2 separate regions of the Homo sapiens genome follow, and region 2 is linked to region 1. The links come from fine-mapping of genetic effects on gene expression. Tissue or cell type: sun-exposed skin. Region 1 holds a variant in brackets; the other region holds the start of a gene. All regions are shown on one strand. Distances are from middle to middle.

The links. PIP is the estimated chance that this variant, and not a neighbour inherited with it, causes the effect. A credible set is the group of variants that fine-mapping cannot tell apart.
Region 2: DNAH8 starts here. The variant in region 1 is the best candidate, but not a certain one, in a credible set for the expression of DNAH8 in sun-exposed skin (GTEx, PIP 0.86).

Annotation. Positions count from the first base shown.
Region 1 is chr6:38,839,687-38,842,186 of GRCh38, reverse strand. All of the region lies in intron 33 of DNAH8 (dynein axonemal heavy chain 8), which reads right to left. Among named protein-coding and RNA genes, the nearest start is that of DNAH8-AS1, 110 kb to the left of the region's middle. The variant G/A (reference allele first, on the strand shown) is at 1,113.
Region 2 is chr6:38,713,886-38,716,385 of GRCh38, reverse strand. DNAH8 (dynein axonemal heavy chain 8) reads right to left here and starts at 1,075. Exons shown (of 93, transcript NM_001206927.2): 1 at 971-1,075. DNAH8-DT (DNAH8 divergent transcript) reads left to right here and starts at 1,171. Exons shown (of 2, transcript NR_186581.1): 1 at 1,171-1,320; 2 at 2,088-2,216. RefSeq lists a silencer at 1,039-1,088.

The DNA.
Region 1 (2,500 bases):
AAGGCCAAGTTTACTGCTCCCAAATATTCCAAGTCAGACTATAACTTGACATTAGCAAATGGTTTATTCTGTAAAGAAAAAAAATCTTGCTACTTTTTAATGAGAAACTTACTATACCAATCATTGCAAACAATGTGACCAAAACTTAATGATAAGGTCATAGCTGCGGCTAAGGTTTCATTTGACTTTTTTTTCTTTCAAATACAAGCTGGATTTTATGAGAACATTTCCCTTGACTAAGCCCTGATCTGCCTTTAAGATTGAGCTTAAACACCCTATTCCTACCAGAAGTTTTCCCTCATGTGGCCAGGTGTGGTGGCATGTGACTGTAGTCCCAGCTACTTGGGAGGCTGATGTGAAAGGACTGCTTGAGCCCAGGAGTTCAAGGATGCAGTGAGCTATGATTGCACCACTGCACTCCAGCCTGGGCAACAGAACAAGATCCTATCCAAAAAAAAAAATCCCACATGTGCCCAGATGAAGTTACTGTGTTTAAAACAAGAATAAAAGGTCCAAGTAAAGGAAAATTCTTAAATGTGTAAAACACCAAATTGACCACTCAACAGAATTTGTGGATTCTCCCAGAAATTCCTCAGCCCTTAGTATGCCATAAGGTTCTACTGGATTCAGTTTTAGTTTTCAAGTTTATTTATAAGGATTGACATTCACAACTTTTATTCTTCATCAGAGATACTTCAAAAACCAAAAATAAATTTTGTAATGAAGTAAAAGTCGTTCTATCTTTTTATTTTATTTTATTTTATTTTTGAGAGAGAATCTCACTCTGTTGCCCAGGCTGGAGTGCAGTGGCACGATCTCGGCTCACCATAACCTCTGCCTCCTGGGTTCAAGCAATTCCCCTGCCTCAGCCTCCCGAGTAGCTGAGATTACAGGCAGATGCCACCACGCCCGGCTAATTTTTGTATTTTTAGTAGAGATGAGGTCTCATCATGTTAGCTAGGCTGGTCTTGAACTCCTGATCTCAGGTGATCGGCCCGCCTCAGCCTCCCTAAGTGCTGGGATTATAGGCATGAGCTACGGCACCCAGCCCATTCTATCTTGTAATTACCATGTAGGCGTAGTAGATTTTACAAATCTAAGACACATTCTGC[G/A]ATCTTAGTTGTCCTATTTTTTCAATTCTTGATTCATTTTTCATCATTCTTAGAATTATTTCATTACCACTTATTATTATTCTCAACTATGCTAAAAATGACTAAAAAAAATAAGAAAAGAGAATGATGACATTGCCTAAAGGGTAATGCAACAGTGAAAAAAAAATGACTACTGCATCATCCTCCAGGCTTCTTACTGTATAACATAAAGTATTGCAAAATCTTTCAAAAAAGTATATAAAAAGAATGCCAGAGACACCATTTTTGTTGTCTTTTGATTTTTGCTTGTTTAATACAGTTGCTTTCATTTAATACAGTTAAGAATTCAGAATTTTTCATTTTCTACCTAAAAGGGTAAAGAGAAGAAAATTGACAAAGAAATGTGTTTCCCAAGTATTAAACAGGAAAGAGAAAGCAGCATTCCCTTTTGATGGTGAAATTGATTAATATGTGAAATCTCATACTATGTCTTCAGATGATCATAACCTAGATGAATTTTATAAAATCCAGTAATTTATAAGTAAACAATATATTTCCGTAGACTTCAATAGAAATAAGGGCCTTATCATGCAATATTTTGCAACAAGAACCTAAACTATTCCATTTTGTGAAAAAGATAAGTGACAGTGTTCCTTCATTATTTATATTTACATAAGTTGTATTTGATACATTTCATAAGTGGACAAATGTTGAAGTCAGATGTGTATTCAAGGAAATAGATGATTTAGAAATTTAAAATTTCTTGGAATTGATCATTCAAATCTAAAAGTAAAGTCTTCAATATTTATGAAGCAAAACAGATGACAGTCTTCTCTTAAAAAAATGATGACTGTCCGAGTTTTCAACAGCTTTGAGTCTTGACAATGCAAGTGCAAGAAAAGTCAGAATTAATGATAAGCCACAGATCCATTGGAGATGATTTAAAATATGAAATCCATATTTACAGCATGGATATGCTCCAGGTTCACACATGACAGCCGATGAGGAGTTAGTCTCATTCAGTGCTGGTCCCCATTTTGTATATATACATCTTCAAACTAGGATATTACAGAATAAAAGTTTGAGTTTACTCTGCTTAAATTATTATTAAATCTTCTAATAAAAGTGCTTCTTCACCGGACATGGTGGCCCACACCTGTAATCCCAGCACTTTGGGAGGCCAAGGCAGGCAGATCATCTGAGGTCAGGAGTTTGAGACCAGCCTGACCAACATGATGAAACCCCGTCTCTACTAAAAATATAAAATTAGCCGGGCATGGTGGCACATGCCTATAATCCCAGCTACTCGGGAGGCCGAGGCAGGCGAATCACTTGAACCCAGCAGGTGGAGGTTGCTGTGAGCCGAGATCATGTCATTGCACTCCAGCCTGGGCAACAAGAGTGAAACT
Region 2 (2,500 bases), 130 kb after region 1:
GTAAATTCAGTGATGAGACTTTTGGGCTAGAGGGGAATGAGAAGGGTAGAGGAACGGGAAATAAGCCGGAGGGAGAGGCATTTTTTTTGTTTTATTTTTGAATTTTTAAAAATATATAGGTATATGGCCGGGCGTGGTGGCTCATGCCTGTAATCCCAGCACTTTGGGAGGCCGAGGTGGGCGGATCACAAGGTCAGGAGATCGAGACCATCTTGGCTAACACTGTGAAACCCCGTCTCCACTGAAAATACCAAAAAAAATTAGCCGGGCGTGATGGCGGGTGCCTGTAGCCCCAGCTACTCGGGAGGCTGAGGCAGGAGAATGGCTTGAACCAGGGAGGCAGAAATTGCAGTGAGCCGAGATCGCACCACTGCACTCCAGCCTGGGCGGCAGAGTGAGACTCCGTCTCAAAAAAAAAAAAAAAATATATATATATATATATATATATATATATATATATTTATTTATTTATTTATTTATTTTAATAGCTTTTCGGGTACAGGTGGTTTTTTTACATGGATGCATTGGATAGTGGTGAAGTCTGAGACTTCAGGGTCATCCAGGTAGCATACATTGCAAGCGATATGTAGTTGTTTCATCCCTCACCCCCCTCCCACCCTTCCCCTTCTGAGTCTCCGAAGTCCACTATACCCCTCTGGATGCCTTTGCGTAGCAATAGCTTAGCTCCTACTCATAGGTGAGAACGTGCGGTATTTGGTTTTCTAGTCTCAAAACGGGGAGTGGGTGTGAAGTCACTTAGATGTCCAGTGTAGAGACTGACAAAGGGTAGTGACTCAGCTGGGGTTTTGAAGCAGGGGTTCCCTGGGTTCAACTAACAGAGGTGGAGGACTGAACTGTAGCGTGGATTCCAGTCCCCTAAAAAGAAGGAAAGTGGGCGGGGAACCCGGCTGCATCAGGGCCTCCCGGACAGGGGCCGGGCGCTCACAGCGCGCTCCGACCAAGTACTCACCAGCCGCTCTCTGGGCCCCGATGCCCCGACCACTCAGCCCACTGAGGCCGGCCCCAGCGGTTGCGCTGCCCCGGGGGAGCTGCTCCGGCCTCCGCGGCCCGGAACGAGGCTGACGGTTGGGAGTCCGAGACAGGCTCGCTCGGGGGCGAGGGCTCCGCAGTGCGCAGCTCCCTACGGGGAGCGACTGGAGGGGCACGGGCAGCCCCCGCGCTCCCCAATAAAGGATGCACCCACCGAGCCCGAGGACTGAAACATTGTTTAGGGGACCCCAGGCACTGAAGGGCGGGTTCCTGGAGATGGACATTTGGAGTGCGGTGCCAGGGGCTTGGGAGGATTCCCGCGTATACGTGGTAATACGGAAATATATAAAATAATGTTTTCTATGACCTTTACAGTTTCTGAAGTTACTTAGTGTTTTCCTTGAGAACCTAAAAAGTGTTTCCTGGTGAGTCAGTGTGTTCAGAAACCTGTGACTGATGAGAGAGAAAGATTCTGGGGGAAAACTGACTTCTCTCCCAAGTCCACCCCCTCCCCTCTCTAGTACGGTTCTGCTTTTGCTGTGACTGCCTGACATGATGTGAGCGGTCCGTTTTTAGTTGGGTGTGTTAACCAAAGAAAAAAAAATCAGTCATTTAAATAATTAATATTAGTTTTATTCAGATGTCTTACTAAGGATTGCAATCCGGAGAGTCTTTCAGAGACTTTCTGTGAGACTGCTCCAAAGCTTAGGTACAGGTGGTGGCATGTGATGGGAAGTGGCATCAGATGTGCTCAGCAGTTACATCAAATGAGCTCAGCAGTTACATTAGAGCAAAATCTCATCAAGGGTGGGGTTCAAGGGTACATCTGGTTATAGATTGTAGAGGCATAATCATTAATCCTATCAGCTATTATCTTATTATGTACAGGAAGAGGCATGAGTTAGGATCCTGGAACTTTTGCAAGAAAAGATTCATGCAAGAGATGTTATCATCTTCAGGGGCATTCTTCCAGGGGCTGCACTTAGTCACTGAGTTAGGGGATTTGTGAAATGTAGCTGCCAAAGAATTCTCTGACATTCTGCTGGCAAGCAGAATGAGCAAATATAGCTTCTTACATAAACTATTTTGTCTTACAGGTGTGAAAGTCAGTCTTTGAATGTAGAGCAGATCAATGTGGAATGAGGACTGAAAGGTCTGTCAACTGAAAAAAAAAACAAGAATGAATATAAAAAATCACAAATTAAATAAACCATGGTCCATCCATATTAATAGACATTACTCAGTGATTATACAATATAAGCTTATGGGAGCAAGGGAGTTCCTGAATATCCTTGCTGACTGTGCCGAAATGCAAGACCTACCTACCCTCTAACTCTGAGCCACTTCCTTAACCAATCTTTAGGCAACTCAGCAGGCCACAGCAACCACGGCACGAAAAGGCACAATTGCTCACTTCCTGGGGAGAGGGACTAGCTTGTTTACTGCTCGATACAAAAGATACTGAGCACTTAGCCCTAGATTCTTTACCTGCCTCCCAGTCCACTGCCTG